Linked DNA regions of Homo sapiens: region 1 is linked to region 2. A link means that fine-mapping ties the variant in region 2 to the expression of a gene that starts in the linked region. Tissue or cell type: whole blood. Region 2 holds a variant in brackets; the other region holds the start of a gene. All regions are shown on one strand. Distances are from middle to middle.

What was found. PIP is the estimated chance that this variant, and not a neighbour inherited with it, causes the effect.
Region 1: TRIB2 starts here. The variant in region 2 is fine-mapped to the expression of TRIB2 in whole blood (TOPMed, PIP above 0.99).

The regions. Positions count from the first base shown.
Region 1 is chr2:12,710,488-12,723,287 of GRCh38, forward strand. TRIB2 (tribbles pseudokinase 2) reads left to right here and starts at 6,449. Exons shown (of 3, transcript NM_021643.4): 1 at 6,449-8,090; 2 at 12,773-12,800. The coding sequence starts at 7,821. It overlaps LOC124905974 (a long non-coding RNA gene), which reads right to left and starts at 6,271. Exons shown (of 2, transcript XR_007086222.1): 1 at 1-6,271. RefSeq lists silencers at 6,037-6,256, 6,347-6,406 and enhancers at 6,359-6,998, 6,847-6,916, 8,278-8,915.
Region 2 is chr2:12,528,646-12,541,445 of GRCh38, forward strand. The region is part of intron 4 of MIR3681HG (MIR3681 host gene); the gene reads left to right. Among named protein-coding and RNA genes, the nearest start is that of TRIB2, 180 kb to the right of the region's middle. The variant T/C (reference allele first, on the strand shown) is at 5,795.

The DNA of each region.
Region 1 (12,800 bases), 180 kb after region 2:
CCTTTGAGGTCTGTGTGCTAGGTGTGGGAACGCGCACTAGATTTACCAGAACACCCTTCAAATGGAATCATTTACAGTAACCTAGCACTCTACATAATATGTAAATTTGTAGCACTTCCTGGACTAGCTGCTTCATTTTACCTGTTTTTACTTTTTTTATTAGCTGCTCAGCAATACTTAACAGGACGGTAGGCAATTTGCAACACTCAGAAAATTCCCATATGTTGGGTTTCCCACCCTACTCTAAGAACAACAACAAAATTTTCTTGTATCTCATTTCACTTGTGAGCACACAAGAGCTATTTTCCTGTATGAGAAGAAGAGTTACAAAACCAGGGCCTAGAAAGAAGTGGTGCTAATATTACTATTTCTTCTGTATTTATACCCTGGTCTTTTCCCAGTGGACAATTTATCCAGAGACAAAAACACATCCCCAGCCTAGCCATGGTAAAGTAAGCAAGTGAGCAAACAAACAAGCAAAAAGGCATAGGTCACTCAAGTGGAAAGTCCTGCAATTTTTGTATGATACAGTTCTCCTTCCTGCCACTCCCTATTGTCTCCCCTGCACTTTCTCCTTGTGTCCCTTTTCCTCCTCTATGACCTACTGTGTCCAAATAGCATTCTAAATCGAAGACAATGATTGGATCATGCATTGGGGCCCTGTGAGTAGAATTGCATGTAAATACAACATCAACCACTGCAAAACAGGGAAGTACATCTGCATAAAAAGGTGACATCTAAAAGGTGACCTTTTAATAGGTACTACTAAAAAATACCTTGTAAATAAGCAGCTGCTTCTCCAACACGAGCTGTTAAAAAAATTGAGAATGGAAATCACCATTATGGAAGGATTTTACGTGGGCCATTCAATCCAAAGGTTCAGTCAACTCTAGAAAGCCTAATGACAAGTAATGTGATATAGTAAAAAATAATCATATAGTTTCAGAATAAACTTTTCTCCTGCCCCCTTTCTTCTCAATACACACATACACATACACACACATGCACATACACACACATGCACATACACACACATGCACATACACACACATGCACATACACACACATGCACATACACATGACCTCCAGGGCCACTGAGTAATGGGCTACCATGGAATAAATTAATTAGTCTCTCTGGGTCCTGTTTCCTCAATCCATAAAATGGAGTAATAATTCAAAGGGTTGTATAAGAACTAGAGAGAAAGAAAGTAGCTGGTCTAGCATTCAAAAGGCATAATTAAAATACAACTATTATTAAAGTTAGTAACAGAGAATATTCTCAAAGTGATGGGGCAATTTATGACAAGGAGTTAACACAGTCAACACGAGCCAAAGCATAGCAGCAAGTCACTGACTCCATCACCACCGAAATGCAGCTAGGCAGCATGACTATCTTCAAAGCAAAGGATCATGTGGATCACGTGGACCAGTGGCTGCAGCTATGAAGGTGTGCACCTCTTCCCTGAACCTCTTCCTTCTTCTCTACCTACACAAATGGATGACAGAACCTCTTCATAAGTTAGCAGAACATTCAAGGAAGGCAGCAAGGGAGTATGAAATTGAATGCAAAGTAATGTAACACTAACAGTAGAACTAAGGCAATGGTGAAGGACTCAGTTTAAGATATGGCACCTTCTAAAACATTACAGAGCAGGATGTATCCTGATTGGGTTTCCCATTCATGGATTGGTTAAATCTTGCATGAAGCAGTAAGTGGGAGCACTTATCTTCTTGGCTACCTTTACTGACTGACACTAGGCAATCTGTAGATTCCATCATCAGGAGTATCTAGATTGGAGCTCAGGCATTAACACCACAAACCTCTTCATTATTGTCCAAGCACAACCATGTCACCTGGATTTTGAACATGTCATTTAAAACCTGACACATCCACATAGCCAAATAAGAGAACTGGGGAATGTAACCTTGAACTGAGGGAGTGCAGCCAGGTGAAGGGAACATCCTGGAAAAGATTCCAGGGAAACATGGAGGCACCAAATACGCAGGAGGAAATGATCCAAGTCATAAACACAAAAGTAGGAGCCTGGAGTCCATGGGGTGATGAGCAGCTGGCCGGTAGGTAACCAAAAGTGAGAGACGAAGTTGTTGGGAAGTTCCTGAATTTCAGGCCAATGGGTTTATGTCTAAGGCTCTAACAGCTGCTTGGTCAGAATGCTTGTGTCCCCCCAGATTCACATGTTGAAACATAATCACCAACGTGATTGTATTAGGACATGAGGTCTTTGTGAGGTGATAGGTCATGAGGGCAGAGACCTCAAGAATAAGGTTAGTGTCCTTATAAAAGAGACCCCAGAGAGCTGTCCTGCCACTTCCACCACGTGAGAACAGTATGAAGGTGCCATCTATGAACCAGGACTCTGGCCCTTACCAGACACAAAACGGGCCGATGCCTCGACTTGGACTTTCCAGCTTCTAGAACTGTGAGAAATACATTTCTGTTGTTTATGTGCCACCAGCGTATATTTTATTATAGCAGCCCAAACAGACCAGGACAACTGCATTTTGCACAACTTCAGGGTTTCATTCACAGAGCTGTCAGTGAGAATGGAATGTTCTGGAGTTCAGCAGGCCACAGTCTGCGTGCACATCAGCATGACGTGAAACTCTCTACAACTTAAACTAGAAGTTTATCAAATAGTTTTGAGCCTACACATGACTTGCTGCCCGAGTTGAAACACGGGAAATGTTGTCACATATGGTAAAGGCCTTAAAGTGATATAGTAGTCTTATGGTTTCTTCTCCAAAAGCATTTATTATTATTTGATCAACACACACAGCACTTAGTTTAGGGCTTCACATTTAGCAGAGGCCCACTGTGTGTTTGTAAATGAATGAACTAATGAGCAATAAAGTGAATGAGTGAGTGAAGGAGCAGCTAAATATATTGCAGAATAAAGAATGTTCTAGAAAACATGCACAACATGTTACTGACCCAAGACAACTGGATTTGTCCTACTGCAGAGTAGACTGGTTTAAATATATCCCCTTGTAATTATATAATCCTTTTTTAATTGCCACATATTTTATTATTGTTGCATACTGTATAGGACCATTCTTATAACTATGTTTAACAACTCCCACACACCTTGCCAATACTGTAAACATGTTATCTATTACTATTACTTCATGTTAGATTGCTTTCTGTGGATGAATTCCAACAACAACAATAGTAAAATAGTAACGGCTGCTTTTTTTTTTTTTGAGATGGAGTCTTGCTCTGTTGCCAGGCTGGAGTGCAGTGGCGTGATCTCGGCTCACTGCAACCTCCACCTCCCAAGTTCAAGCAATTCTCTAGCCTCAGCCTCCCAAGTAGCCGGGACTATAGGCATGTGCCACCATGCCCAGCTAATTTTTGTATTTTTAGTAGTGACGCGGTTTCACAATGTTGGCCAGGATGGTCTCGATCTCTTGACCTCGTGATCGGCTCGCTTTGGCCTCCCAAAGTGCTGGGATTACAGGTGTGAGCCACCACACCCGGCCTTGAGTTTTTATTATAGGCAAGACATTGTGCCAGATGCTTTATACACATCTTCCATAATTGCTATACATTAAGACAAAATTTCTATTGTAATTTCACTTTATAGATTAAAATATTCCAAACTTGACCAAAGTCATATGGCTAAAAAGTGAATGAATAAAGATCCCCACCCAGATCTTCCTACTACATGCTTTTTTCTTTTCCAATTTGCTAAGAATTACCGAGTTAACAGACATAACAAATATTTAAGGCACTTGATACAAATTATCTAATTTATCCTGCACTGCAATAGCTCCGTGAATTTAATCAACAAACATAGCACTAAGCCATGAATTTGGCCTTCAAGGACAGGCAGGAGAATGGCCACTGTGTAATTTCATCACAAGTCATAAATTCACTATTAATCCTGTACAGCATCACTAGAGGTTTATACTATTTCTGCTCTCTCTTTCCTTGGAAGCCCAGTAGTATCTACTCCCTGTGATCTGCAGCAGGATCTAAATCCCACAAACGACCGTGTCACTTCCCAATGTCAGCCGTGCTTCGCCATCTCCTCTACTAGGAAGACCACTGTTGCTAGTTGTGTCTATCAACCCCTTCCCGATCTAATCCCAATCAGTCCACTTTGCCAGCCACATGCCTGGCCACTGCTCCCAGCTGCCACTGCTGGAACATGGTGCATTACTAGAAATTTCAGAACATCCCACTCCCTTGCTTTTCCACATTCCTTCCCTCTGCCTGAAATGCCAACAACAATCTCTTATTCATTTTATTTTATGACTCATAGGGCTATTTCAAGGTCCATGAAGACAGGAAATATATTTTTCAAATCATTGTATCTTCATATCCAGTGTCTGGCACATAGTAGGTTTCAATAAATATTTGCTCTGGATTAGTTCAAGGTAATAAAAATCACATTTTCTGGGAAAACTCCCTGACGTTCAGGAAAAGTCATTCCCTCCTCCATGCTCCCTTGAGGCCTTGATATTCTAATTGCCACATTGTTACACAATGACATTATTTGTTTCCCAGTCTTTCTGCCGGGCTAGACCCTGCGCTCTTGGGTGGCAGAGACCAGATCTTACTCATATTGGATCCCTAACACTCAGCACAGAGCCCGGCTTATAGTAAGCCTTCATAGATTTCCTGGAATTGAAAATATAATTCTAAAGCAACCACATGAGGTGAGCAGGGCGGGTATTATGCTTCTCATCTTACAGATGAAGAAACAGGGATCTAGGGAGAAAAAACAAGGTCTTCACCCAATTTCCATTTGAAATCAGAGACCCAGCCAGGGCTAGCACACAGGTGTCCCAACCCCTAATTATTACAAAGCTCTCTTGGCCACTGCATAGAGGAGGCTAGGCACCTCTCTTTCTGACTCAACAGCAGGGGTTGCTTCGAGACTGTTCCTAACACAGGCCAAGTGTCTTCCTGGGGTAAGACTGGATTAGGGGACCCTGCTCGGTCAGTGGTCCTGGTGATCGCCTAGGGAAATAGATCTATTCTGCTGGGATCTGGGACTGAATCCTAGGCAGGTTTGTGGGGAGTAGGATGGTGAGAGGTGCTGGAAGGCACGGGTCCACTTCTTAACCTTCCTTTTAACTCTGTGCTGCTGGGTGGAAGCTTTATAGTCAATGTCCTCTCCATCTCTGGCCACATTCCCAGGACTCCTGATCATTAGAGTGACTGTTGTCCCAAGTGGACATAATTATAAATAGCTCCCTTCTTTTACTGAAAGTGTCCTACAGTGGACAATAATTTAGTCCCCTCCTCCAGTGGAAAATATACTACACGCATGCAAAAGCTCAGAGGGCTCCAGGAGTCGTCCCAACTCCCCTTTCTCAGTTCCTTGGGATTTTTTTTTTTAAGTTTGTCCTCTACTAGATCGCTTCTCATTCACCAGGATATCTTAGATCAAGGCTGGCGTTTGAAGCCTCTGCCTGAGTTCAAGCCCCTTGCTTCCGGTGTTCCTGTCCAAGCCCGCGGACTGGAATCTCCCAAGGAAGTTACGAATAATTCGGGGGGGGTGGCGAAATGGGGGGTGGAGTGGGGCGTGAAACTGCAGCCTTCACCTGGCTAACAGAAGAGGACTCAGGACGCCCAGCACCCTGGATAGGACCCAACAGCGCTCCCTGGAGGTGTGGGTGCAAAGTTTTGTCTAGCTTGGCCTCCAAGGCCCTCCAGGCAATGCACTGGGAAGGGAAGAATTAGTGATTAAATTTGACCTGAATCAAAAGATGCCTTCAGTTCCTCTTCTGCTGAAAACACTAGAAATACAAGCCCAGGATGTGGGGATCGGGGGCAAGCGGTGACACCAACTAAAAGGAAGCAATGGATTTCCTTTTAAATGGAGAGGAGGATGTCGGAGAGATACCATGAAACGAATTCTCGAAACTCCAGGCAGCAATACCGATGAAAGCGCATTCTTCCAAAACAGAGCTCCTCATTCAGGGCCACATCTGAGCCTGGGGGCCCAATGCTCAGAGCGTGCCTGGCTTTCTGGGGAAAAGCGCCAGGAACATGAACGAGCTACGAAGAGCTGGAGCGGGCGCTGCGGGAGCAGCGTGTGGGGAACGGCTCGGGAGTCGCTGCTGGTAACCCCGGCCCAGCCGCCCGCAGCTGGGCTCGCAGCCGGCTCGCAGCCGACACCCAGGGTGCTGCGCCCGGGGCCCCGGGCCGCGGAAGGATATTTCACTTTGTTTACCTCCCCGGCCGGGCGAGGGAGCTGCGAGGCCGGTGCTGGCGCCCCCGGCACGGAGCTGCAATGGCAGCGGCGCGGGGAGCCGCCCGAGGACTGGCAGCGGCGGGGCTGATTGATGGGCGCCCGGCGCAATGAGGGGGGCCCGGGCGGGGGCGGGGCGGGGCCGGCTCTGGGCTGAGCCAGTCGCGGGGGCGGCGGGGGGGGGGCGGAGGCTCCGTGGAAATGTGTCGGTGACATTGAATGGGGAGACCGAGCGCGAGCGAGGCGCGCGCGCGCACACGCGCACTCACGGCCCCGCTCGCTCCGAGATCCCCGGCCACGTAAGTAACTATTAATACCGCCTCGCCGGGGGATGCGGGCGTGCTGAGCGCGGGGATTGGCCTCGGGCACCGTCGGCCGTCCCCTTTAATTTTTAAATACACGGTCCCCTCTTTTCTCTGGGGGGGGCAAGCAAGAAATCAAAGAAGGAGGAGACAAGCCGTCAATTTTCTCCAAAACAAACCCCACCGGGCAATTTGGTCTCGGGGTAGGGGGAGACGGGGTGATTGCAAATTATTCCAGGACGAGATCCAGTTCTCCAGCGGGAAAGGGGCAAAGGAACGCCGCGCGTTGGAAGGGCCAGGGACGCAGCTCCCCTTGCAGCGCCCGCAGGACCCCCGCAAGCTCGTGCCGGCGAAATCGGAGACCGCCGATCTGTCCTCGTTCTCTCCTGCACGTCTGGCTGCATTCGGAGGAAGACCTGGGGCGCGAGCGAGCGGCGACAGCATGAGCCTGTGCTGACCTCCGCGCGGCGGGCCGAGCCCAGGGCTTTGTCGCGGTACCTGCGCCCAGCCCGCGCCGCAACTCTGTGCCCAGCTTTTGCAATCTTTTGTTGGCAGCGCTGACCGCACCAAGTTAAATGCTCCCTTGCAATTTTTCTTTTTTTTGTTTGTTTGTTTAATTTTTGGAGAGCTCGCGATCTTGGAAAAGCCTCAGACGCCATCTACAGTTAAAACGTAGGTAACTGCCCTCTCCCGCACCCCCCCCTTACACGCCCCCCACCCTTTCCACCAAAAAAAGGGGGTGCAGCGCGGATTCTGGCTGCCGTGCGTCGCCAGCCGGTAGACCCGTGCTTGTTTCCTTTCTCTTTTTGTTTGGCTTCTAACGCGTTGGGACTGAGTCGCCGCCGTGAGCTCCCCGAAGACTGCACAAACTACCGCGGGCTCCTCCGCCCCGTCTGCGATTCGGAAGCCGGCCTGGGGGTCGCGTCGGGAGCCCTGGCGCTGCAGCTCCGCACCTTAGCAGCCCGGGTACTCATCCAGATCCACGCCGGGGACACACACACAGAGTAACTAAAAGTGCGGCGATTCTGCACATCGCCGACTGCTTTGGGGTAACAAAAAGACCCGAGTTGCCTGCCGACCGAGGACCCCCGGGAGCCGGGCTCGGAGCAGACGAGGTATCCGGCGGCGCCCATTTGGGGGCTTCTAACTCTTTCTCCACGCAGCCCCTCTTCTGTCCCCTCCCCTCTCGCTCCCTTTTAAAATCAGTGGCACCGAGGCGCCTGCAGCCGCACTCGCCAGCGACTCATCTCTCCAGCGGGTTTTTTTTTGTTTGTCGTGTGCGATCCTCACACTCATGAACATACACAGGTCTACCCCCATCACAATAGCGAGATATGGGAGATCGCGGAACAAAACCCAGGATTTCGAAGAGTTGTCGTCTATAAGGTCCGCGGAGCCCAGCCAGAGTTTCAGCCCGAACCTCGGCTCCCCGAGCCCGCCCGAGACTCCGAACTTGTCGCATTGCGTTTCTTGTATCGGGAAATACTTATTGTTGGAACCTCTGGAGGGAGACCACGTTTTTCGTGCCGTGCATCTGCACAGCGGAGAGGAGCTGGTGTGCAAGGTAAAGGGCCAGTGGGTTGCTTTTTGTCTTTGGAAGGGGCCCGAGGGAGCGGGAGGGCGCCAGGCCCTCGAGTCTGGGAGAGGGAGATTCGCGGGATAATTACCGTGGCCTTATTAAATGGGTTTATTTATTTATTTGCTCAGGTTCGGTAAGTTGCGAAGTTTTTAGACCGTTTCAGACAATGGGGCGGGCGGCAGTGGGGGCGTTTCGGGGAGAGCCCGGGGAGGAGAGGGCGGCGGGACTGCGCGGGGGCCACGGACACGCGTGCACCGAAGGCTCCAGGAGCTCTCTGCGCGAGGCCGGGTCCCGCTGCCCGGGGGGGATTTCTTCCTGTGTCTAGCCCCCTCCCCTTCCAACAAGGATTAGGGAATCCCCCGGTAATTTTAAGACTGATGACTTCGTTCTTTTCGCAGCCATTGTTCTTAGCAGCGGGCAGGTGTTAAACCTTTGTTCCGAAGGTGCCCTTTAAAACAGACACACAAAGGTGCCCCCTTCGGCTGAGCCCAGGGGCCCAGCGCAGGGAAGGAGTTTACAAAGACCTTTCTTCTGCCTGGAGCCTTGAAAGGAGGGTTGGGGTGGAAATCAAAGCCTGAGCACTTTCTGGTGAATAGTGAATGCTTTGGGTCTTTCTCTCTGGTCTTGGTCTCTCTCCCCATCTCTAGACTTCCCTGTCTGCTCATCCCCTCTCTTCCGTGCCCCCCTGAACAACACCTTTGCCTGTAAGGTTAAGAGGCTCCCGTTTGGAGCCCTAGGGATCCGCAGTGGTAATACCACTGCGATGGACACTTCGGTTTCCTTTTTTGTCTTTAACCCTGAACAGTGACTGGTTTATGTATATGTGTGTCTGTGTATCTTTGTGTGCACCCACCGGGCCCCAGACAAGTGGATGAGGGGCGAAATAGTTGCGAAAAAGAAAATAACTATAATAGAGCATACTACTACCCAGAATTGGACCTAGATCAAGGATTCTTTGTCACTTAATTTTAGATTTGCTGACTGTTTTTTTTTTTTTTTGAGGGGGTAAGGGGAGAGTGGGGGACCCATTCTGCCTTTGAAATGGTCACTGGGCACGGTTGTGCTGCAAATAACACATCGCGCTTTTGCCATTCACCACAGACTACTTTGCGGACTTGCCTTATTTCCTAGTGGACTGGAGTATTTCATTGCAAAATTTGGGTTTAGTGGAGATCTCCAGTCAGTTTTGCGATTGTTCAGTTCAGCCCTTAGGGGGAAATCGGAGACTCTTTAAATGTTGCCCTTTGCTTGTACTGAGCATTTGGTATTTTGCATCTTCTCTAAGTTATTGAGACCCAGAGCAACTGTGCCCAGTTAACCAAAATTCAGTAGCTGGATTGAATTCTCAGAAGTCTGCAAGGTTGCACAATAGGATAGTCATCCTTTGAAATGAATGAATTCCACAGAACTGCCACTCTTGTATGAAATATGCACAATCACCCAGCAGTGAATATTTTCATTCCTTTTGCTCAACTTCAGTACAGCATTTTAATATTTTTCAAAGGCTGGAGATGCTTTTAAGTATAGGGACTCTGCAGCCAAATTCTGCAGGGGCATCTGGCTGTTACTTCTTTGTTTAAAATCAGAGGTGACTCTGGCCTCTGCTCATTCTTTCTCCAGATTTTGCAAGACATATTTCACTTTGGGCTGACCTTACAGTGTCATTTGCAGACTTGTGCTCTGGCCTCAAATTGGACTTAATCTGCTGGTTTAGTTATTGCAAAGATTGAATCAGCCCCTCACCAATTACAGTGTGGCTGCAAGTGGATTTAAGTGCAGTATCATTGTTCTGCTTGACAGAGGTCATCCCTTTAAGACACAGCAGCTTCTGTTTTCCTGACTTTTTACCATAGATGATGTGGGTGACTTCTTATGCAAGCATAGTTGTGTATCTCCGAAGAAGCTCCAAGAGAGTTTTATAAGGCTGCTTCTCTGAACTGCCCTGAGAGATATATATGCTGTGGTCTCTTAGCTTACTTTAAGGCTCAGTGAAATCTACACATTGAATCTAGTTCCTTTTGATGTCTTAGAATAGAAGGCTCATGTTTCCTAGCTGTGTGTTGACCAATGAAAAAATTCTTTGCAAAAACAGATCAAATGTAAAGATGCTATTTATTATAGGGGACTGCGTAGAGAATTCCATAGGACACTATTTGGAGGAATAGAGATTCCAGAGTCATTTAAACAAAATAATCAAGGCTGCTTATTGTCTCCATGTACCTACTTTTGCTAGATGAATGAAGGCACTTTAAGGAGTCTTTAACTGTATGTTTTCATGGAGATACTGGTAGCTACTGTGCAGATTGACATAATTACTATCTTGGCAGAATGGGTACTTTTTTTTTGCAAATGTTATTAATGATGGCCTAATCTTACTGCCTTATCTGAACTGTCACATTACATAACCAAGGCTCCAAATTAAACATGTAAAGAAGCTGGCACCAGGCTTGTGGCTTGATTTTGCACGTGAAGATGATGGTTTAAATACCAGTCCAAGCCCCTAAATGCCCCTGATAGCTACTAATAAAAGTTTGGCTCCTTCTCGTGTGGGAAAACATAAGTACTTATTTTATTTTTCATACTCTGTCCACCATCTTGGAATTTGGTCTCTTCTACAAAAGGTATGGCTACATTTGAAGCTGCCACAAATATGTTAGTTTTTTAAAAATTCTGTCTCCAGTTTTTCAGCAGTGGAGCAGGATAATAGGCTAAAAGTGCTGAGCAAAAGTCACCTTTTATGTTTTTGTAAATGCACCTGGAAACAGGAAGTAGATTATAAATAATCATAACTCTGTGAGCACTGGCGACAGAAGCTGCAACCTGGTATTTCAGAACACAGCATCTTCATTATATGATGCAGTGTTTACGTTAGCCACTGCAAAGCTTATTACTCCTCGAAATTTTTGAGGCTTCCCTGGGTTTCTGTTGCCTGCATTCAGGGTGTTAAAGTTGATTCAAGCATTTCAGATTCCTAATTGAACAGGCCTCTTAGGTCACTGCTCTTGGGTCATCATTTGACAGTATCAGTGTGTGATTTGTGGTCTCTGGAGATGTTGAAGTATTCTTTCTTAAATTCTAGGTTATAGTGGCAGCAGCTGTGCCGCTTTTCTGAGATGCCTCGTTATGGTTCATTCACAACATTACTGTTAACTTTGCTTCCTTGGCCGTGTTAGCAGCAACTCTTGAGGTTTTACATCCCTGTTTGACTCACAGATTTTGTTTCAATTTTTTGAAGCTTAGAGCAACTTAACTCATGGATTCTTAAATAGCAGTCTGTGGCTTTGGATGGGCTTCAGAAAGCCCGTGAATCCCCTTAAAATGAATCCGGTATCGTGCATGCATTTGAGAACGGGCATTGTCAGCTAAGAGGGAACAGAGCTTTTATCAGATTTTATGTGACATCAGGACCCAAAAAAGGTTAACACTGTTCTAAATCAACATCTTCATTTTATGAAGAGGAGGGAGGTCCAGTAACCCTAAGCTCTTTATCCATCTCATCCAGATTATTGGTGGCAGGGCCAGGATTAGTGCCTCAAGGTTGCCGACTTCCAGTCCAGCATATTTCCTACCACACTGCAAAATGATGATGAAAGAAAGTATGTCTAACTAGTGAAAAAGCGATTTAGGCAGCTAAATCATTGTGAACTGATAGCATGCAGTGTATTGTTAGGGCGTTCCTGCCTCAGATGCTTTCCAGCGAAGCTCACCCACGCATGCCCCTGGCTCACGCACACACTGAATAGATTCATCTTACCCACATCCCAGGCAGATAGAAAAACCACATTCCAGACCCAGGGACTTGTATTCCTGATTTAGTGGAGGTCTTGAAATGAATGAAAGCGCCTTTTATATAACCTCAAAAATTCTCTGTAGTGTTAATTGCTGTTAGGTCTGTTTCAAAAGGTATTGATGGTGCCTTTTCTTTTTAAGCAACCGCACAATGAGTTGGCATTTTGCAGGCTAATTTTGATTCATAGAAAATCATTGCATAACTGGTTCATTGAGTTAGATATCTGTGGAGGGAAGAGAGGAAGAAGCAAGGCTGCTTCCCTATTCAGAAGGATTCTATCATATTCCTACCTCTGCCACTGGGGGCTTGAGTTTTGGCTCATTCTCTGAGCCTCAGTTTCCATATCTGTAAAATGAAAGTATTGAATTAGAGACCACTGGGCAAAAGCTAGCTGTTTATTCTCTTAGTTGCTCATGTGTTGTATAATGCCTGTTTATGTGCATTTCTTTTTTTTTATTTTTGAAGGCAAATAAAGTGTTGTTGATGTCATTGAGGTGGATCACTTTCTCTCCAATTTTGCCTTAGTTCTATAAACACGCAATTGGGCTAGAGACAAAAGTAATGAAAATTATTATTTCTGTACTGCATTACGTTTTGCAAAGCACTATCACCTTCATTTTCTCATATAATCCTCCTAACACTGTGAGTCAAGTATCAGTTTCCCATGTTGTACGTAAAGATTTGGAGGCTCCGAGAGGTTAAGTGACTTGTTTAGTGCCACACAGCTGGTAGGAGGCAGGGCCAATGTGGTCTGGGTCCAAGTTCAGCATATTTTCTGTCATCTCAAAAGCCCATACCTGTGGGAGGTGCAGCATTATGTGTTTTGGTTGTACAAGAGGCACCTCTGACTTTGGTCTTACTGTTAATCCTGTCGTAGGTGTTTGATATCAGCTGCTACCAGGAAT
Region 2 (12,800 bases):
GTGATTATCTGCCTAAAGAAACCCAAAGTATTCATATAAATTATTAAAATTTTTTCAAAGTTCAGCAATTTTGGTAGATTAGAACTCAAAATGTTCCTCTATATATCACCAAAATAATATAATGAGAAACTTTTATGATAGTCCCATTTACAATAATATATTTTTTTAAAAGTCATCTAGGAATGAATCTAAACAAACAGTGTATGTGAGCGTTTGGAAGAAATTATAACTTTATTTCAATTTCAATTTAAACTTTATTTTTATGGAAGAAATTATAACTTTATTTCAATTTCAATTTAAACTTTATTTTTATTAAAGAAAATTTAATAAATGGAGAACTTTAAAAATTTATGTAAGAACCCCCAAGACAAAATCAGCAATTATTGCTAGAGTAACCAAGAAATTCAAAACGAGTGAAAAAAATCCCAAGAATATTTCAAAAATCCAGAGAAGCTGGTTTTAAACGTATGTAGAAGAAAAAGTTGTCAAAAATAAACAAAATGATTTTTGAGCTACATAACAATGTCAATGAACTAGATCTACCAAATACAAAAATTATTATTCATACAGTGAAATATTGCTGTAGCTTATTTGAACACCACAATTGCTAAAACATTTCATGTTTTCAATAAAACATGTTAAATCTTATATAAATTAAGTGAACAGGGAAATATAAGTTATTCATATTGAAAAGAAACCACAGACATCTCCACCCTACACCATATTTATTTATTTATTTCATAAATATTTCCAGTATTTAGGATTAAATACTGGAGATCATCTTTATAGTCTCAGATTTTGAAATGTGTTCTTTAAACAGGATTCAAAATGAGAGCTACAAAGAATGAGTGGTAATTTTAATCTAGTTGAATATTAAAACTTCTGGTGTTAAAAAGAAACTACTAAAAGGAAGACAAAAACTAAAATAATTAGAGAATATGTGATCAACATATATATATATATGACAAAAGCTTATTATTCAGAATATTTTAAAATCAAACTTCTACAAATTATTATGGAAGAGAAAAGCTATTCAAAATAAAAATACGTGAAGGAAATTGAAAGGCAGTTGAAAGAAGAGAATAAACAGATGGTCAAGGAACGTGTGGAAAGATGTTCAACCCCACTGGTAATTACGTAAATAAAAATTACAATGACAACGAGATACAATTTTATGCCTAACAGATTGTCAAGAACAAAAACAAACAAAAAACTTGGCAACACTACACATTGATGGGGATATGGAAGGACATAAAACAAGATGCAAAAATATTGGTGGTTGGATTATTTTTTCCAATATTCTCAAGTCACTGATCTGTGATAAAGTCTAGGAACTGGGATTTTTGTCTTTTAAAAAAATATATATTTCTAGGTGATTTCAATGTTTATCCAATTTTGAAAACAATGCCTTATATTTTCACCCAAACGGGTATACGCACCTCAACTTTTAGATACTTAAACACTACTGTACAATAGCAAAATTAAAGGACTTAACGGAACCTCAAAAATAGAGTGTTCCACAAAAATGTAAGTTACAGAAAAGTAGATACAGTATCACATTGGGTTTTGAGAGCTCCTAAATGGCGCTATCTCCTGGAAACTTGAGTTTTGAAACTATTACAGGATAACTTACTATAAGAAACCATGAATAGTTTAATATCAGAAATACTACAATTCAACAAATTAAAGAATAAAATCATATTGTCATATATTCACAGATCCTAAGAAGATGCTAGATAAAATTGAAAAGCCATAAAAAGATATCTTAGTAAAATATGTGCACAAGAAAATGATTTAACATAATGAGGTTTACTTATCACACACTAACAAAAAACATATTTCTAGCAACAGGAGTGCTAAAACTGCTCTTATTAAATTCCAGAACTAGGATGTCTATTGTCTGTATTACCATTATTCAACATTCCTGGTAAAGTACAATGTTTGTAATAATACAGTATTAAATAATTAGTATAAATACCTTTTATTAATATTTTTTTCTAATGATGTGATTATGTGTCTTGGAAATCCAATGATTGGCCAAAAAAAGATTAGATTGAATAAATTAATTTGGTGTGGGGGCTGAATTAAAGGCACACGAATATCAATAGATTTCCCCAATCCTAGAAATAATCAGCTATAAAAAGAGCTGAAAAATTTCTTTTTTTTTTTTTTGAGACGAAGTATCGCTCTGTTGGCCAGGCTGAAGTACAATGGCACAATCTTGGCTCACTGCAACCTCCGCCTCCTGGGTTCAAGTGATTCTCCTGCCTCAGCCTCCCAAGTAGCTGGGATAACAGGCACCAGTGCCCACGCCTAGCTAATTGTTGTATTTTTTAGCAGAGATGGGGTTTCACCATATTGGCCAGGCTAGTCTTGAACTCCTAACCTCAGGTAATCCGCCTGCCTCAGCCTCCCAAAGTGCGGGGATTACAGGCATTAGCCACTGTGCCCTGCCGAAAAACTTTTTTTGTGAAAATATGCCAAAGCTATAAAATATTTAAGAATGTATTTCACACAAAAGATATAAGACCTATATAGAAAAATATAAAATTTCTTGAAATGAAAACATGTATACTTTTTGAAAACAATTGTGATATCTTAATGCTCATTTTAACAAAACATACATAAAATTTTCATATAATTCCAATAAGAATTTCATTTTTTCAGTGATGAAGGAAAAAGACAAAGATTTCTATAAAAAGTTCTTAAAATTCCAATGCAATGGGATAATAACACAGAGTAAATAAAACTGTGATATAAGAAATTACTGTGGAAAGATTTGTGCTTTTGATGTATTAAAATAACACAAAGTTTAAACATGTTATTTGGAATATAATAATGTCATTTATGCACTTGAATATAAATGCATAAATAGATCAGTGAAAATAAATAAAATCCAGAATGTGATAATCTAATTTATTTCAGATAAAATTTTAATTGAACTGAAAAATGATTTTCTGTTTAATACATTGTACACGAAACACACTGAAAAGATATTTCAGAAAATACCTTTTAAAAATTAAATTCCAAAAAAATTATAAACTGTTATGAAAAATCAATAAAATAAAGCTCTGTAAGTGTAATCTAAGTGTGGTAAAACATTGTAAAAAAGACCTGAAACCTGAATGCTTAAAAAACAAAATAAGTAATATGACAAAAAATAACATGAAATATGAAAATTGATATACCAAAATTGGGAAAAAATTAAATGGCTATGTCAGACAAAATGATGAATTTCCATAAATGATAAAAAAGAGACAAAAAATATAGTCAAAGAATAAATTAGGCAATCATAGAAGAGAAAGCTCTAATTGTCAATTATTATATTTAAAATCACTCAATTTTCAAAGGTTTTCACATCTCTCATCAGATTTATTCCAAGTATTTCATATTTTTGATGGTATTTTAAATTTCTTGGGCATTTAAAATAATTCAAAAATGAGACTTTTCATCTGAAAAAGTCTTTAAACTTGTAAATCCACATGGATATTAATTTTTAAGACATCAAGATTATAGTGACAGGAAATTTTACATGGTTGGTTTATTACAGATGATTTACTGAGGAATAAAATCCTTAATGTGTAGGTAACACAGGCAAAATTATTCAGCAAAAACATAAATCTTTTTTGTCATACTCACAAAGAGTTGTTGGCTTAGTCTTTCTTTTCCAGTAAATTAAGGAATTCTCCACCAGATCTGCTGAGATACGTAGCATCTCAGTATCCTTGATCTATCCAGATACGTAGTATCCTACTGGATACCTAGGTATCCAGTGGACATGCTGAAGTAACATCCTGGAAACACAAGAAAGTTGACTTTTCTCTCCATTCCAAAATATCTTCCATAAAAGCCTATTGGCAGATGACCCTCAACTTCACTGAGACTCAGTTTCTCATTTGCAAAAAGGGAATGGTAACAACCTGATATGTCTTTTGTGAGGCGTAAGTCGGTGATACAATGTCTGAGTCGTATGGCACTTTAGATGATAAAATACGGAAAACAGTACTTTTCTGCTAGATGCTGGTGAATTTTCTTTTAATAAGACATCCGTGAGAAGGAGAAAACCTCCAAAGCTCATGATGGTTTGGCTACCTACTCAGAGAAACTTGGACATAATCAGTATGAGGAACTAATGAGAACAGGAAAGGCTTACTGTGCTTATATCACGTAACATCTACGTGTCATCAAATCCATTGACAGGGCTTTTTCAGCATAAACTTTGTCAGTCTCTTAATCTTGGCTCTTCTACATCAATTTAATAGGGTTGTCTTAAAAACAAACAAATGACAACAACGAAAAAGCCACAACAGATGGTTTATGAAATTGCAGAAGGCTGGAGCAGAAAGAGAGCCATAGAAACAATCTGACCACATTCATCCATTGTAAATGTCACCTATAGCTTCCCTGTCAGGATTACCAAGGATCTCTGTTGATTACTTCCAGTGATAAGAAGTCACTTATGAGACAGGTCATTTTATTTTAATTATCAGTTAAATAATCATTCAACTGAAATCTCCTTAATTTTCCACTCTATGGAGCTACCTAGAAAGCATCAAATTTTACTTTCTCTTGGCAGTTCCCTTATACTTGAAAACGGAATTAGGGTCCCCATTCAGTTTTCTTTCTTCAGTTAAATGTCTCCTTTTCTTTCAGTGTTATCTCCTCATTTGAAGTAGTTTTCTGGTTTTATAATACTTAACATACTAGTTGCTCTTCTCTGGATAAATTCCAAATTGTCAATTTCACTTTTAAACTTTTATGCTCAGAACTGAGTAGGATATAGCTGCTGTACTCGATGCAGAAAACTCATGCAAAAAGTAGCAGTTTTTCTCCAGTGGTTATGCTCAACTGTTTTAATATACTGCTTTGTCACACAGTCATGCCTGGGGCAGTTCAAGATCCTTCAGATCAAGACCTGGGCTCTTCTAGGAAGTAAAATACAAAGGTTTTACTGCAGAGGATACCTCTGACAGAAGTCTGTCTTTCTCTCCCTCCTTTGTATTTTAAGTTGCATTTTGTAGATAACTAAGTCAAAGCACTATTCAGCCCCTGAATAATAGAAGCAAGCCCTCTAAATAATAGAATGCATTAAATAAGAATTCCAAACATTTTATACATATGACACTTGGAAAGAGTTTTCCTGAAAGTAGCCTGAACTGTTAAAAACCTTGGTTCTAGCCATAATATTGATGATCTGTTTGAACTCCTGAGTCATACAATCTCTCATGTAGGTTAGGCTGCTAATATAATACCTTATGGCATCTAACAATGACAAAAATCATTTTGCAGTTGAGTCAAGCTTAACCATACCATGGGCAGGTAAGTTTTTATTTAAAAAAAATTTCCTACTTGAGTGCCCATCAATTCCTCTCTGCCTGGGTTATATTTGTCTCTTTATATTTTTCAATATAGTTCCCAAGAGAAAATTGATCTTATTTCCAGTTCCTAATGAAAATATGAGATTTTAAAAAACTGTAATGAAAGGTTTCAATTTATAGAGGGTGTGTTCTCTTCCTCAATCTGGAATATCTGCAATACCTTCCCTCAAGTGAAATGTTCAGCTTATTTAGAGGATATCAGGATGGTTTGCTATTTCCTGTGCCTCATGACTGCATACGTATTTGCCATCTGATATTTAATAAAGCCATTCAAGGACCATGACATTTCGTTGGATGGCACAGTAAGGAAAGAAGTCTGATGAGACCCAAACATGCGTGGCAGGAATTGGAGGAAGGTACAAGGAAAGTATCTTTGCTTTTGCATTTGGGAGATTCAAAGAAGCAGGTTTTTTGTT[T/C]GTTTCTTAGAAAACAACAAAGTTGTCTCTCCCCCCTACTACACAGAACCACTTTCAGAGAAGACTTTCAAAAGCTTCGACAACAACAAAAAACTAAACTAAAACTAAACAAAGGCTCCCCGGCTACTAGAACAGGGTTTGCTTCATCTTCAAGCTGTTCTTTCACAGCCATGTCCTAGTTATGACAGTGTGGGAAGTCGGAATGACAACCACCAAACCAAACTGGTCTCTGTCTTCACCTTCTCACAGAAAAAAAAAAAAAAAGCCCCATCTTGGAATGTGCTCTGAAGATTTTCTCGTCTCACTGTAGCTAGGAAAGAATTCACCCCAGAGGCTAGAGCAACATGCTTGGCTAAGCTTCCCACAAAACCAAGGACTACTTGCCTTAAAGGTTTTCCTTTCATTGGAATCGCTTATGCATATGTCATCACTGACTCATATCTCATAAACATGATTTACAAAAAAAGCTTGTCAGCTGGGTTTTATTAAATAGTAAATTAAAAAAAAAAACCTGCATCCAGAATATCCAACAAGCTCAACACCCACAAATTCACTGGCTCATCTTCCAGCATCATGTGGTGGTTGATAAGTCTGAAGAACACACACACACCTCATCAGCTCCCATCAAACTCTCTCTGCACCCACGGGAAAAGCTCCACATTCATAGAATTCCTCCCACACATGCCTGCACCCCATCAGCACAAGCAAAGATGAGGATTTACTCTGTGAGTCCAAAGAAAATAAATTGCTCCATTTATACATGACACATGAAAGAAAAAGTCATGCTTATGTCAAGCTAGAAATACACTTTTTAAAAGACAAAATTGTTACTTAAAAAAGGAAAAGTGCTTTGGCTCTGGAATGCCTGGTGGGTGCAATAATTCAATTAAAATTCATTGTTCTGACTCTGGCAAGTATTCATTTGTTCACCAATATTTTAGAGAGATCTATTCTCATTGGTTCTTCGAGTTCATGGAAAGCTTCATGTCATCTTATTGGATTGTCTTGTATTTTAAATGATTACTATATAGGCATCCTGGGAAGATGGAAAGACATTAAAAACCCTAAATCCTAGGCACATCTTCTATCTACTTTACAAAATAGTGTGTATGAAATAATTCAACAGAAGCCAAGGGTATGGAATCCTTAGTAAAACCTGAAATAAGTGAACAAAATTATGCCTTTCAGATTCTGGAAGGCATTTATATACCTTTCCACACCAGTAGTCTGGATTTAAACTGTGATGATAGGAGATCTAGGATTTATAATGAGACCAGTTTAAGTTATTGTGCTCATGATGTATTTTATTAGAGTAGCACTACTGATGACAAACATCTTTTAAAAATGGATAAAGGCAGCAACATGACAGAAGTTTGTTTTCAGCTCATATAAGCCTTAAGAATTGTTTTCTTCATTAGTGCATGACTTTCCTTCCAGTTGTGATTCTGGGACCTAGTCTTCTGTCATACTGTGGCTCTGATATCTTCAATATATGTTTTCCAAAACAAATTATCCAAGGCATCTGGGTGAATCTGAAACTAAAGGAAAGAGCATAGGAAATGACATGTAATCGACTATTGTGGACCACCATGGAAGTAGCACTTGCCACTTCTGTACACATCTCATTGGCCGGGACTCAGTCATGTAACCTCACCTAACTTCAGGGAACATTGAAAATGTCTCCTAGTTGTGTGCTCAGGAGAAAAAGAGAGTGGGTTTGGTAAATAGCAGGCCAATTTTTGCTACTCAAGGAAAAGAAGAAATTCCCATTCTACCATCTTTCCTCTTGTGTGAGAAGGCATGACAAGGACCACAGCTCATCCGCATTGAGTATGTAGCAGACATTTAGGGGAAACTTTCGTCAGTGATTCCAGAGACTGTTTTATTTCAGTTCCTCTCCAGAGAGTTCTCTTAACATGCAGTAAATATCAAAAATGGAGCTTCTGATAATTGTACCATGGGCCAGGGCCTTGGTATTCTGAATAATAATTACTAAGGCATTCTGTTCAATTGGGTTTTAAAGATCAATTGTATCTGAGTTGCCACATCATGGAAGGTCTTTCGATGATTTTTTTCACTGTGAAATCTATGTGCATTTGATCATGTAGACGTCCATTCTTTTGTTTTTCCATTCCTTTCAAAAACTAAATTGAGACAGCTTACAAAATAAAATTCAACAAGTAAATGGTAGACCCAACACCTTGAAAAGGGAATATTATTGGTAGTAAAATTAAATGAAGCTGGGGGTGAGGGTATTACATTTAATGTATATATGCGTCTCTTTAAAAGAGAGGGATAAAGTTGAGGGTTGTAAATAAGCTCATTTAATAGTGGCCAAAGTAAAGAATGCGACCTCAGACATGGGGCCTGTAATTATCTTTCATGCTGCCCTGATGTGCTCTTTCCTTCCAGGGACTCCCACATTTCCCTAAATCCATTAACAACAAGAACAGAATAGAGGGGAAAATGCTTGAAAAGAATATTTAATATGAGTGATGAAATCAAGTGCTAAATTTAAAAAGAAAGGAATGGGATGGGCAATTATTATAGCAAAAAGAGAACAGGAAAAGTGAAAAGCAGAGAAAGAAAACTGGCAATCTAACTCCTTTTTGACTAGAAACAGGACACAAGAAGCAAACTGCTGGTGGTGTGTGTGTGGGGGGTGTTTAAGCAAAGATGTCAGACTCCCAAGATTAAACTAGTGAAGAATGGGAAGGGAGAGGGAGAAGAGGCAAAATGCACAAAACTCCATAAAAGGGAGCCGAGTGTCCATGTATTTGAGTAGATGGATATAAATAGAACATCACAGTATTCGGAATGTTTGTGGAACTTCTTATGATAACAACGAGCGTCCTATTTTTAATAGGATGCTTACCTTCCAAATTCTATCAAAACATAACAGGAAATAAATATTAACCAAAGTACCAAAAGGCATAGTAAACATGGAGTGCATTATTGTATATATCTACAATGAATGTCTTAGTACAAAATGGGAGTTCAACTAAAAAAACAGAAATGGTTCAATAATTTATGGTGCATTTTCTGAATAAAATACTATGTAGCTATTAAAATGAATAACGTGGAAACACCATAGCAACAAGTCTAATTGTTTATTACATAATAGCAATAAAAAAAGAAGGGTCAAGAGGATATGTGTGTTATGATTACAAGTGTGTAAAAAAACCGTGGACAAGAAATAAAAGGAAAGATTGCGAAAAATATTATGTATTGAAGATCATGGAGATAGAATTTTTATTTAAATGGTCTAACTGGAATATTATTATTTCAACAAGAATAAATAGAGACAGAGAGACAAAAATAAATACTGTCCAGCATCTCTTAGTGTTTGACTTAGCAAGGGTGTCTGGAAGTGTTGGGGGGACCAAGTTTGGAGCATTACCATGGATTGAAACTGTTCTCTGCTGAGACTGGGATGAACATGCACAGAAATGCCCTGGCCAGCTCTGCTTATGTCTTTGTCAGCCAGGCTGACACTCCCTTGCTCAAGTTGCAGAGAGGTCCACATGTGGTCAGTGGTCCCAGCAGGATGAGAAGCATCAAGGTCCTCCTTGCCCATCCTTGGCTCTTGTGGCCATTCCTTCAGCTTCTGCCTCAGCTTCTTCTCATGCCAGTATCAATGAAGGAGATAAATTATGTCCTCTGGGCCTCAGTTTCCTCCTGTGTCAACCTAACAGCCTGGGTGAGGATTGAGGGGAGTGCAGTACTCTCTAAAGGAGAAAGTACCATTAGGTACAGATGGGAGCTGCATGCTCCCACCTTGCCACTGTCCTCCTTTTTTTACTTCTCCTCTGTCTCTCTCTCTCTCTCACACACACACACATGCATGCACCAGCATTTATGCACAATCATGCACTCCTTCTGCTCTATATATCCTCAGCTCTGTCATTAGTTAACACAGGTTGCTCCCTCTTGGCTCCAAGAAGGACGTGCTATTATTTCTGCTTGCCAAACTCATCCTTCAAGTTCCACTGACACCTCCTTCATTTTATCGGTCTACTAACCACTTGAAATGAATGGCTTTTTGTTGTTGCCATTTATAGGACAGAATACTTTAGCACTGTGATAAGATTATCTGTCTGGAATTTCAGAAATCCCCATATACCTGGAGAGACTGATTAACTAAGGAGATCTCTGCAATAAAGCGCTGCCACAGGTTGGTCACCATGGGAAGCCCTCTCAATGTTTCAAAGCACTTTGAGCAATATTCATTTTATTATTTAAAATAAAATATTTTTAAAAATATTATTAAATGTATTATTTATTATTAATAGCATCAAAACTCAAGGAGTCAAGTAGAATGGAATGCATTTCTATAATAATTTTATAAATGAGAAATAGGAGGCCCGGATATATTGCAAAACACACTTAAGGTCAATATCTATTCAGTGGCAGAACTGGGAATAGAATTCAGGACTGTCTGGGCCTCAGTCCTAAGCTCCCTGAAGTACACTTGTGTTTCCCTAATGCTGATTATTACGGCTCTACGAGGTAGGAGGTTATGTCTATGTTAGTAGTTCTCAAACTGTAACAAGTATCAGAGTCACCAGCTGGTAGGCCCCACTTCAGACTCTCTGATGAGTTTATGATTCTGCAGATTTGGGGTAGGCTCTGGTCATTGGCATTTCGAACAAGTTTCCCAGGCAATGCTGATACCGCTGATCACTTTGAGAACCACTCATCTCTATAAATCTTTGGAGTTGCTTCATATAAACTATTGGCCAGCCAATTCTACCAATTCCTTCTGCATAAATGACATTTTTAAAAAATGCCATTATTCCAAATTGCAATGGTGCTATACTTTTCCTAGTCAAGTTTCCCAACTTACAAAATGCCTTCGGATATTGTGGTTAATGGAGTGTGTGGTGGGGAAGGAGTTGCCAAATGCATGGGTCTTTGGCCCTCATTAATATTTAGAGTTTCCTGAACCTTAAGAAATGAGGGGCTCAACAGCATGGTAGAGAGACGTGCTGAAACAAACAGAGCCATTCAGGGCGACAGGAACGAGCTATCGTGTACGTTAAATGTTAACTCCCTTTAAAAATAAAATAACACAGAAAGCAATCTTCGCATGGGAAATAGATCACACTAGATTAGGCAAATGTTGTTGTTTCAGGTGGCTAACCTTGTTGCTCCAAACCCAAGCCCGGAGTTAAAAAACAAAACCACGAGCTGGAGGGGCAGCCTAAAGTGCAGTAGTTTAAATGCAGTCCTATTAACAGTAACTTAATACTACGAATTTGGGAAGTTTGGACTTTGGCCCTCTTGCTCAGGAGACCTTAAAAATAAAGATAGCTGCACAGTGAACATGAGCCACCCGCTTGTTTTCCATTAGGTACCTGGTGAGAGATATTTATTTCGCCTGTTGTCTGCTGGATGATTTTTTCCAGGGTCAAAAGTACGATTGTGTGCTGGGTACACAAGTGTGGAGTTAAGTATGCGGGGCCCTAGAACGGGAGCTTGAACAGATGCTCTTGGAACAGTTGTACATAATTCACTCCTCTTGGAATTTGGCTTCCCCAGTACAACCTCAGTCATGTGAAACATTAAGCCAGGGTGGATGGTTGTCAACTGCAGAGCTTATCCACTGTGCTGCTGAAAGCCCAGCAACGGGACACTGTCCTGGTGGACAGGTTGCTATGCTGAGAAAATTATGGCCACCACATACATTGAAGCGAGAGATCTCAGCTCCAAAAAACCCGATAACGTCCTCAAGAGCATGAACAGGGAATAGTTGTCTGGAGAGAGGGGAGAAAGGCACCACAATGATTCAGTTTGACGGTCTAAACAAGAAACAAGCACACCACCACAAAACCTGTGAAAGATGTCTCTTTCACAGACATCAGCATCTACTCATGCTGCACACTGTTCAATTCCCAGGGGTTTTACCCTTGGGCACCTTCATTAAAACACTGAATTATGCTGCCCTCCTCCTGTCCTTTGCATTCCATGAATAAGCCATGCCTCTCTGCTAGTTCAGGCCTGAAATTTATGGAGTACCTTCTATACACCAAGCATTAGATTAGTGAAATCCCACAATGTAATGTCAATGTCAATACCTTTTTTAAAGGTGTTATTAGAATCAATTTACAAATAAGAAAGACTAAATGATTGATAGGTTTAGTCACTTACCCAAGGTGAAATAGGTAGGAAGCATGAAAATCAGAATCAGGGTCATAACTGGTTGCAAAACACCTTGGTAGATATTTTAGGCATTTTTCTCTCTGCCTATGATGTTTTTCCAGTTGTCTGCCAAGGCAACATCATCTTTTCAGTCCTGGTCCCAGTCCAGTGCTATGTCTTCCATGTGGCTTTCCCTGAACCCTTCCTCCGACCAAGCATAGCTACTTACACTTTGTTCTTCTGTCCTCACAGCCTTTGTGTGCACATAGAGTATGTATCACACCTTCTGCAATTATCTACATGTTTATCTTCCTGATTTCATATACCATGCATGCTTAAGGACACTTTGCTTCATTTATCTTTATGTATAAAATGCCTGGTGCTCAATAAATATATGTTGAATGAAACTCAACTATACCTCTAATTATAACACCATTCAGAGTTGGCTTCTAGGTTGGGCACGGTGGCTCACACTTGTAATCCCAGCACTTTGGGAGGCCGAGGAGGGCGGATCACTTGAGGTCAGGAGTTCAAGACCAGCCTGGCCAACGTGGTGAAACCCCGTCTCTATTAAAAGTATAAAAATTAGCCGTGTGTGGTGGTGGGCACCTATAATCCCAGCTACTCAGGAGGCTGAGGCAGGAGAATTGCTTGAACCTGGGAAGCAGAGGTTGCAGTGAGCCGAGATTGCGCCACTGCACTCCAGCCTAGGTGACAGAGTGAGACTCTTTCTCAAAAACAAAAAACAAAGGAAAAAACAGAGATGGCTTCTAATTATATTGCATAAGCAAAATTGTTCCTTAGGCTTAAGTCTAATTGCTTACTGTCCACATAAGGCAGACCCAGAAGCAAATATCACATGGAA